2 separate regions of the Homo sapiens genome follow, and region 1 is linked to region 2. A link means that fine-mapping ties the variant in region 2 to the plasma level of a protein whose gene starts in the linked region. Region 2 holds a variant in brackets. A gene starts in the other region. All regions are shown on their forward strands.

Region 1 (5,373 bases), not on the chromosome of region 2:
CATGAGTCACTGGGCCTGGTCATAAATTCTGTTTTCTAAGCAAACTTATCTTACATCAGAGGGCAGAATGGTTAGGGAAAATATCTAGTGAAAAAGACCACCAACAAAGGAGCACCATCTCTCAATTGTCACACTAATGTGCAGTGACACTTTGGCAACTGACTCCCAGTTACTGGCATACAGTTTCATCTACCAGTTGGAGCCAAATGGCAGATTTGGGATTTTTCTTAATCCGAGTTATTATTCAGAACAACATATTCAACACAAATATTTAACCACTAGTGTCAGATTTTATTTTTACATGATAACTCCTCAAGCCTTTAACCGCAAGAGTGCATACAAGGTAAAATTAAAAACAAAATTAAGCCTGCTGACTTTCACTGTGATTGTGGTTTGATATCATGCAGGATAGATCACAACTGCTGATTCATATTAGGAAAGAGAGCCCCCAACTGTCACAAGCACATTGTGTTTGAAAATACAAAACCTTACCAAATCACTTAGTACTTAAAATTAACAACATCCTCATCATCTTGTGGTTGAAATGATGACTGAACAATAACTCAAGCTAGTTGTGTTCTATATATTTTTAATTAATATAATTAGTATTCCTAGATCTTTTTAAATTGCTCTACTCTAGCCCTAGGGAAAAATGATTTCAGAAGGCTGAATACGTATGCTGATTCAAGATATGATTTCTCACACACCCAACCTCTATAATTTTGGATTATAGAGCAATATAGAGTAATTCTGGCACCATCTCTTTGGCAATGCTGTTTAAAAACAAAGTTACTATTACACACAGCCCAGGATATTGACTTCGCATTGCACATAAATACATTTATATAATACTTTTTCTTTAATATAGAAGCCATAGCCTTGATTTTTTTGAAAAATGATGAAGAATATGGTAATTATGAGACTCTCAATTGACTCAAAAGTTCAGAGCTAAAATCAAGGTAGAGTTTGAACACACCTTACAAAAAGTTGAGATCCAAATTGCATAAAATTTATGAAACTTTTGATTTAAGGACTAAGTTTTCTGGTAACCTCTTTGGGAACATCAGGATAATAAAAGATGATTAAGTAATAATGGTATCTCGGCCGGGCACGGTGGCTCATACCTGTAATCCTAGCACTTTGGGAGGCCGAAGCAGGAGGATCACAAGGTCAGGAGTTTGAGACCAGCCTGGCCAATATGGTGAAACCCCATCTCTACTAAAAATACAAAAAAATTAGCCAGCTGTGGTGGCGCATTCCTGTAATCCCAGCTACTCGGGAGACTGAGGCAGGAGAATTGCTTGAACTCAGGAAGCCGGAGGTTGCAGTGAGCCGAGATCACGCCACTGCACTCCAGCCTGGGCAACAGAGCGAGACTCTGACCAAAAAAAAAAAAAAAAAAAAAAGAAAGAAAGAAAGAAAGAAAGAAAGATGAAATAACGATATCTGATCAAATTATTTGCCTTGGCCGGATGGGTGCCAGTCCTGGCTATAAAATTCACCATCTGGGAGACCTTGAACAAATTATTTAATTTATCTGATTCAAACTTGCTGTCTATAAAAATGAAAATAACTTTATGTAGTTTCTAACTTAGAACAATAAATTATTAATGATAAATATGAAAATGCTGGGAAGAGTTTCAATCACTACTAATATATATTCATTATCTAGCATTGTCTTCTTCAAATGGATACATTTTAAAAACAGCCTTTAATCATAGAACCACTTTTTTGCATAACTTTAAGCCATAGGGCTAATTATACACGACACAAATCTAACCAACAGAACTGTACTACTTAGATTAAAAGAAACTTGCAGAAATGATAGTTTTGCATAACTTTAAATAAAAGGCTAACTACAGATGACACAGAAATCTTACCAACAAAACTGCATTATTTCAGTTTAAAAGAGACATGAAGAAATGACATTAACAGTCCAAGTCATATATAAAGAAGCCCACACAAAGGGGAACTGAAACGGATAAACGGACTTACTTGGGAGTTTATCTTGAAAAGGAACTAAAACATACATCCCAAATAACCAATGTCTGCAAGATCCAAAAAGACAGAAGAACTCCAATAATGGAAAGGACTCAGTGACACTGAATTACAATGGACAAGTCCAGTAAAATTCAGTTCTTCCTACTATTCCTCCCAACAAAAGCAGAAAACAACCAACACGCACGGTACCGGTTGACTTGTTCTGTGCCACTCAGAGTAGGTGCGTGGAAGAGCAGACAGGAAGCTGGGGCATATTTAATGAATACTGAAAGGGAGGACTGAGGGTTTGGCAAAGTGTTCACGAGACGGACCCTACCTTTCACAGATTTCCCAATACTGTGTAAGTGAGTGACAGAACTGTAGTTTTGGGCAACAGTCTTCAAAAACGCTTCCATCCCTTCCTGGCGGTGGTAGTTGAAATCCAGCGCAGCTACCAAAGGCAGCAACAGCCCTAGCCAGAGGCACGGGAAGTCCATGTTCTAGAGATGAATAAAAATAAGAAGAACCTGAGAACACATGAGGGCAGGCGGGGGCATCACCAGCTACGTCTCGGTACTCCGGTCTCAGGGTCTCCCGACACTGACGCTCCCTGCCTCCTAAGGAGGCAAAAGCTGGAAGCAACACCTTCGGGAGTGAGCCGTGCAACCAGAGACCGGGAGCACGGGCAGCCTCGGTGCCCTCGACCCAGCCGCCCGCGCCTCCCTCTCCTCCTCCTCCTGGCGCCTCCGCCGTCCGGCAGCTGCCACAGCTGCGCCCGGCCCCGCGCACCCCCAGCCTCACCAGGTCCCAGGCGCGCACCTCTACCCACCCGCGGCCGCCCGGCGGGGCCGGGTGTTATAGCCCGGTCAGAGGGCGGGCGCGCCCGGGCCCCGCCCCCGGACGTCCCTCCGGCCCACTCCGGAGCCGCGCGGGTGCCTCCCGGGCGGGGCCTCAGCCGCCTTCGCACCTAGGAGAGACGGCGCCCGCGCGGTGCGCCCTTTCGTGGCGCGGCTGCTGGTGCCCGCGGCCGGGCGGCTGAGCTGGGCGGAGGGCTGCGGGCATGGAGTCGCCGCTCGCGGACAGTCTTTGCTGGAGCCCCAGGTCAGAAGTGTGTCCTCGCCTCGGCCACGGCTGTAGCCTGGGCAGCCACAGGGCGCTCCACCGAGGGACACTCTCTGTCGCAGACTGCAGCCGCTTGGGAGACGTTTAGGGCTCGGCGGGTTTCCTGCGGTTGGCGGTGCCGGGGCCCACCTGGAGCCGGGACGCATGCGGAGTCCTGAGTGCCCTGAGCCCCGCGCGGGCTCCTGCGGGACGGGCGGCGTCGGCCCCGGCAGGGCGAGCCAAGCTCCCAGCAGTGCCAAGCTGCCCAGCGAGGCTAAGCAATCACGGGGCTTCGAGAAAGAACGCGCGCGTGTGTGGAAGTTTTAAATGCCACGAAGTGCAGAGTGCAGGACATTTTCCAACAAGTTTACATAGTGGGTGGGATTTGTGTAAATTAGAATTGAATTTAAAACTGGAAGTCACATCGAAGAAGGCAGGACCACTGTTGTAAATCCGATGCTTCCTCCACCTGCACCTGAGTCTTAGGCCAATTACAGGTCTCTCGTCCTAAAACGTCCTAAAATGCTCCTTTCTGGAAGGATGGCATGGTCTCTGCACGAGAGAGAACGAAGGCTTCACTCAAACCTGAGAGGTGGTTTGTGGCACGGGCCAACCCCCTCTACCTCTCTAAAAGATTCATTCTCATTCATTCTCTCTCTCTCCCCTCCCCCTCTCCCCTTCCCTCTCTCCCCCTTTCTCCCACTCTCTCCCGGATTGTAAGTAACCGTGTCAGGGTATTGGGGGCCCGTGTCAAGGTCCGCAGAATATAAAAAGTTTGAAAACCACTGATTTGAGATAACATTCCACTTTTACAGACTAAAAATACGGATGCAAGCCCACGACTAATTGAATAGAATTTTTCTCGTGGAGGCCCAAGAAAGTGTATTTTTAGAGAGGACCTTGAATGAATCTAATGTGCCTTCAAGAGCTGAGAACCGTTAGATTCCCTGCCCCTTCTTTCTTACAGATATAGATACTTTTCCTAGAATTGCGCACTCAGGACTCCCTGAGACTTCCAGTGATTCTGCCGCAGCATAGAAGAGTGGTTTAAGAACTGAGGCGCTCTGCCCTTGCGATAGTTTGCTGAGAATGATGGTTTCCAGCTTCATCCATGTCCGTACAAAGGACATGAACTCATCCTTTTTTATGGCTGCATAGTATTCCGTGGTGTATATGTGCCACAGTTGTGCACATGTGCCCTAGAACTTAAAGTATATATAAAGAAAAAAAAAGAACTGAGGCGCTCACGGGATGAGTGCCAATTCTTGCTCTGACACTCAGTGGCTGTGTCGACTCTGTGCCTTATTTTCTGGTGTGTAAAGTGGAAGTCTTAATTGTACCTACCTAAATAAGGTTGGCAGGCACATTGTAAGAACTGTGCGAAGCGTTTATTACATAAATAAACCAGCTTAATTCGTAACTCTTTAAAGGGAATTTTCCAAGAGTTGGAATTTTTTTTTTAATTTTTTATTTCTTTCTTTATTTTTTGAGATGGAGTCTCAATTCTGTTGCCCAGTCTGGAGTGCAATGGCATGATCTCGGCTCACTGCAACCTCCTCTCAGGTTCAAGCAATTCTCCTGCCTCAGCCTACCGAGTAGCTCGGATTACAGGCACCTGCCACCAGGCCCGGCTAATTTTTGTATTTTTAGTAGAGACGGGGTTTCACCATGTTGGCCAGGCTGGTCTGGAACTCCCGACCTCGGGCGATCTGCCTGCCTCGGCCTCCCAGATCGCTGGGATTACAGGCGTGAGCCACCGTGCCTGGCCATCTTTTTTTTTTTCTTAAAGAGAAGTTGTTTTATTGTTTGTTTGTTTGTTTGTTTGTTTGTTTGTTTTGAGATACAGTCTCACTCTGTTGCCCAGGCTTGAGTGCAGTGGTGCAATCTCAGCTCACTGCAGCCTCTGCCTTCCAGGTTCAAGCGATTCTTGTGTTTCAGCCTCTAACGTACCTGGGATTACAGGCACGCATCGCCACACCTACGTAACTTTTGTATTTTTACACCACACATGCCTAACTTCTGCATTTTTAATAGAGACCAGGTTTCACCATGTTGGCCAGGCTAGTCTTGAACTCCTGGCCTCAAGTGATCCTTCTGCCTCAGCCTCCCAAAGTGCTGGGATTACATGAGTGAGCCACCTTGCCTGGCCTAAGAGTTGGAAGTCTTAGTATGACATTGTAGAGTCTTTGAGTAGGTTTTTTTTTTTTTAATTGTGCAGTAGTCACTATGCTAAATGTTATTTCCACTGGAAGGGTTGAAGACGTTTCCCTTTCATTGTTGTTCATTGACTAA
Region 2 (5,373 bases):
CTGTTTGTGTGCTGCCTCTGAAGTCCACACTGAACAAACTTCAGCCTACTCATGTCCCTAAAATGGGCAAACATTGCAAGCAGCAAACAGCAAACACACAGCCCTCCCTGCCTGCTGACCTTGGAGCTGGGGCAGAGGTCAGAGACCTCTCTGGGCCCATGCCACCTCCAACATCCACTCGACCCCTTGGAATTTCGGTGGAGAGGAGCAGAGGTTGTCCTGGCGTGGTTTAGGTAGTGTGAGAGGGTCCGGGTTCAAAACCACTTGCTGGGTGGGGAGTCGTCAGTAAGTGGCTATGCCCCGACCCCGAAGCCTGTTTCCCCATCTGTACAATGGAAATGATAAAGACGCCCATCTGATAGGGTTTTTGTGGCAAATAAACATTTGGTTTTTTTGTTTTGTTTTGTTTTGTTTTTTGAGATGGAGGTTTGCTCTGTCGCCCAGGCTGGAGTGCAGTGACACAATCTCATCTCACCACAACCTTCCCCTGCCTCAGCCTCCCAAGTAGCTGGGATTACAAGCATGTGCCACCACACCTGGCTAATTTTCTATTTTTAGTAGAGACGGGTTTCTCCATGTTGGTCAGCCTCAGCCTCCCAAGTAACTGGGATTACAGGCCTGTGCCACCACACCCGGCTAATTTTTTCTATTTTTGACAGGGACGGGGTTTCACCATGTTGGTCAGGCTGGTCTAGAACTCCTGACCTCAAATGATCCACCCACCTAGGCCTCCCAAAGTGCACAGATTACAGGCGTGGGCCACCGCACCTGGCCAAATTTTTAATTTTTTTCTAGAGATAGGGTCTTACTGTGTTGCCCAGGCTGGTGTCAAACTCCTGGGCTCAAGCAGATCCTCCTGCCTCAGCTTCCCAAAGTGGTGGGATTATAGGTGTGAGCCACTGCGCCCAGTCAGTAGCCCCCTCTTTGCCCCTCACTGAGCCCTACTGGATGTTCTTGGTTGTGTGACAGTTTCCCCATCTATTAAACAGAAACCCCTATAGCAGAGGGGAGGATGAGGTTGGAAAATCAGGAGCATTGTTATTCTATTCTTGTGGGATCGGGGAAGCAGACATCTGGGTGGATGTTTGGGGAATGCTGGGCTCAGTTGAGGAAGTAGGGGGGCCCCTGGGGCTTACAGGGACTGGAAGCTCTGAGCTGGCCAGAGGGATGTTGCAATCCTGCCAGGGTCTTGTCTATGCTGTCCCTTTCACAACCATCCCCCTACCGCCAGGCTGACACGTGGTTGTGGGGGCACAAGGCCAGCCGAACTAGAGTCTGAGGCTGGGCTGAGGACACCCTCCCCATCAGCTGCCAGGGTCACTGGCGGTCAAAGGCAGCTGGTGGGGAAGGAATTGGACTCCAGCCCTGGGGGACGGATGTGGTGATGGTGGGAAGCAGGCTTGGTGCCAGGAGGGGCATCAGAGGGTGAATAAGAGCAGATAGAGTGTTTGGGGGAGGTAGCCAGCCAAAGGGGGTGAGGCCCGGTGGAAGGGAAGAAGGGGCATACACTCAGAGCTTTGCAGCTGAAGGTTTTAATTTTTTGAGATGGGGTCTCACTCTGTCTCACCAGGCTGGAGTGCAGTGGCGCAATCACAGCTCACTGCAGCCTCGAACTCCTGGGCTCAAGCAATCTTCCTACCTCAGCCTCTTGAATAGCTGGGACTACAGGTGTGCGCCACCACGCTCAGCTAATTTTTGAACTTTTTTGTAGAGATGAGGTCTCCCTATATTGCCCAGGCTGGTCTCTTAACTCCTGGGCTCAAGTGATCCTCCTTCCTCAGCTTCCCAAAGCGCTGGGATTACAGGCATGAGCCACCATGCCTGGCCAATGCAGGTGAGGTTTTTAGTGTCCAGCTAAGGCGACCCCTTCCCTTTGCAAAAAAGGGAGACTGAAAATCATCAAGTTAAGAGCCCAGAGAATATCAGGGTGGTCTGGGATGTTTCAAGGGCTGGTCTGAAAGAAATTGGAGGTGGCACGCAGGGCAGGGTTGCGGGGCCAACTGGGAGGCCCCAGCAACATAAAGGAAAAGTTGTTGGGGCTGAGGAGGCTTGCTGAGAGAGGGGAAGTGAGGGAAAGAGGTGATCTAGGGACACGGTGTGAATGAGGGGGGGATGAGATCACAGGGTTATTACTGGGAGACCCCTGAGGGAAGATGGCCACAGGGACAGGACGAGGCTGTCCTCTGAGTGGGGAAAGGAGCTATGGTAGTCTGAGGACCCCCCAGAGTCAGGGAGATTGGGAGGTGAGGGTGCTGAATGGTAAAGGGCTTCGGAGCTAAGGGAAATGGTCAGGACCCCACCTGACCCCAACGCCCACGGGCCAGGGGCAGAGGAGAAAAACCTGGGTGGGCAGAAGGAGGCAATCTTCCAGGGGAAGGCTCAGGAGGAGGGAGATCAACATCAACCTGCCCCGCCCCCTCCCCAGCCTGATAAAGGTCCTGCGGGCAGGACAGGACCTCCCAACCAAGCCCTCCAGCAAGGATTCAGGTTGTTGAGTGCTTGGGAGGGACACCCGCCTCCACTCTGCAAGAACTCATAAAGGGAGATGAGGGGATCGTGGGAGGGAGGGAGGAGGGTGCCACTGATCCCCTGAACCCCTGCCTCCGCCTCCAGGGTGCCCCTCCGGCCTCGCCATGAGGCTCTTCCTGTCGCTCCCGGTCCTGGTGGTGGTTCTGTCGAT[C/G]GTCTTGGAAGGTAAAAGTGGGATGGGAGAATTGCGGAGTTGGAGATTTGGAAGAGTGAAGGTGGCTACAGGCCTGGGGTCCCGGCTTAGAGGACCTCTGAGAGCTCTGGGGCCCCTTCTTGGTCGTGGTTGCCCCATTGTGGTCGAGTGGGTCTCCAGGTTCGCCCAGGCTCAGTCCGGCAGGCGCCAAATCTGCCCAGGAGAGCCCTAGTAACCGATGACGTATGGATCTCCACACCTCTGGGATTGGCTGTCCTCCTTTTATAGCCTTGAAAGTGGGTGATGGGGCGATGGGCTGTGGGAGGAGGTCAGTGCTGAGTAAGGCAATTCCCAGCGGCTTGAGCCCCACGCGGTCACTTCAGTATCCTCCCCATTCTAACCACATGATCCCCAAGGATCTCCTTATCTATCCCCGGGATCCCACCCCAAGGGGGTTCCAATAACAAATTTTTGGTGGGGCGTGGCGGCTAATGCCTGTAATCCCAGCACTTTGGGAGGCCGAGGCGGGCAGATCACTTGAGGTCAGGAGTTCGAAACCAGCCTGGCCTACATGGTGAAACCCCATCTCTACTAAAAATACAAAACAGCCAGGCGTTGTGGTGCGCGCTTGGCTACTTGGGAGGCTGAGACAGGAGAACTGCTTGAACCTAGGAGGCGGAGGTTGCAGTAAGCCGAGATCGCACCATTTGACACAGCAAGTCTCCGTCTCAAAACTACAACAACAACAACAACAACAACCAAATTTTGCACCCCTGCCTCATCTTCCTGGCAGGCCCAGCCCCAGCCTAGGGGGCTCCAGAAGTCTCCAACCCCTTTGATGGCCTGGAGGAGTTAGGAAAGACCCTGGAGGACTACACTCGGGAATTCATCAACCGCATCACACAGAGTGAACTTCCTGCCAAGATGTGGTTAGAACCCTTCCCAGGGCACGGGAGGGCTGGGGTGTGTTTGTGTGGAGCCCTGGAGGATGTCCAAGATGAACAGATTGAAAAAAAAAACAAGTCCCAGAGAGGCTGACAGCATCCTTCTGGTCACACAGCTAGATCTCAAGGATCTCAGACGTCAGGGACAGTTTCCCGGACTCCCATCCAGGCCACATTTTAAAAGATGGTCTTGGGCTGGGCGCCGTGGCTCACACCTATAATCCTAACACTTTGGGAGGCCTAGGCGGGCGGATTGCCTGAGATCAGGAGTTCAAGACCAGCCTGGCCAACATGGTGAAACCCTGTCTCTACTAAAAGTACAAAAAATTAGCCTGACATGGGGGTGTGCACCTGTAATCCCAGCTACTCGGGAGGCTGAGGCAGGGGAATTGCTTGCACCAGTAAGGTGGGGGTTACAGTGAGCCAAGATTGCACCACTGCACTCCAGCCTGGGCAACAAAGCAACATTCCGTCACAAAAGAAAAAAAAAAAAGATGGTTTTGCTTAGGTACGGTGGCTCACACCTGTAATCCCAGCACTGTGGGAGGATTGCTGGAGCCTAGGAGTTTGAGACCAGCCTGGCTAACATGGCGAGATCCTGTCTCTATTTTTTTTTTTTTTTTTTTGAGACAGAGTCTCGCTCTGTTGCCCAGGCTGGAGTGCAGTGGCGCCATCTCGGCTCACTGCAACCTCTGCCTCCCCAGTTCAAGCAATTCTCTGCCTCAGTCTCCTGAGTAGCTAGGATTACAGGCGCCCACCACCACGCCCGGCTAATTTTTTTGTATTTTTAGTAGAGATGGGGTTTCACCATCTTGGCCAAGCTGGTCTTGAACTCCTGACCTTGTGATCCACCCGCCTCAGCCTCCCAAAGTGCTGGGATTACAGGTGTGAGCCACCATGCCCGGTGATCCTGTCTCTATTTAAAAAACAAAACAAAACAAAACAAAACAAAAAGCATACAAGCCAGCCCCGGTGCGATAGCTCATGCCTGTAATCCCAGCACTTTGGGAGGCTGAGTCGGGCAGATTACCTGAGATCGGGGGTTCGAGGCCAAGTTGGGCAGATCACCTGAGGTTGGGAGTTTGAGACCAGCCTGACCAACATGGAGAAACTCCGTCTCTATTAAAAATACAAAATTAGTCAGGCATGGTGGTGCATGCCTCTATTCCCAGCTACTTGGGAGGCTGAGGCAGGAGAATCACTTGAACCTGGGAGGCGGAGGTTGCAGTGAGCTGAGATAATGCCATTGCACTCCAGCCTGGGCAATAAGAGCGAATCCACGTCTCAAAAAAAAAAAAAAAAATTGAAAAAAAAAAAGATGGTCTTGTGGGGTAATGAAGGACACAAGCTTGGTGGGACCTGAGTCCCCAGGCTGGCATAGAGCCCCTTACTCCCTGTGTGATCTTAAGAGAGAGGCATTACTGTGAGCCTCAGTTTCCTTTCCTGTGAAATGGTGGTTCTGTGGGGAAGTAAAGCAGAAGGCCTATAGGGTGTCTGGCACATTGTAAATGCTCAGTACATCTTCAAATCCACACTTGCTCCCTTTGGCAAGTTAGAGAGTCATTCGTTCCTCAACACATATTTATTGAGCATCTGCTAAGTGCTAGAAACTGTTTCAATGTGGGGAATAAAACAGTGAAGAATATGCCGAGCGCGGTGGCTCACACCTGTAATCCCAGCACTTTGGAAGGCTGAGGTGAGTGGATCACTTGAGGTCAGGAGTTTGAGAACCCCATCTCTACTAGAAATACAAAAAATTACCCAGGCGTG

Evidence for each region. PIP is the chance, under the fine-mapping model, that this variant and not a neighbour inherited with it causes the effect. Protein levels are from antibody-based Olink assays in UK Biobank. Linkage for the fine-mapping came from a reference panel and not from the study's own genotypes, which makes the PIPs less certain.
Region 1: CPM starts here. The variant in region 2 is fine-mapped to the plasma level of the CPM protein (UK Biobank, PIP above 0.99).

Annotation. Positions count from the first base shown.
Region 1 is chr12:68,930,361-68,935,733 of GRCh38, forward strand. CPM (carboxypeptidase M) reads right to left here and starts at 2,811. Exons shown (of 9, transcript NM_198320.5): 1 at 2,782-2,811; 2 at 2,318-2,480. The coding sequence starts at 2,477. RefSeq lists silencers at 2,691-3,050, 3,081-3,190.
Region 2 is chr19:44,924,343-44,929,715 of GRCh38, forward strand. It overlaps the pseudogene APOC1P1. Among named protein-coding and RNA genes, the nearest start is that of APOC1, 12 kb to the left of the region's middle. RefSeq lists an enhancer at 3,000-3,892. The variant C/G (reference allele first, on the strand shown) is at 2,681.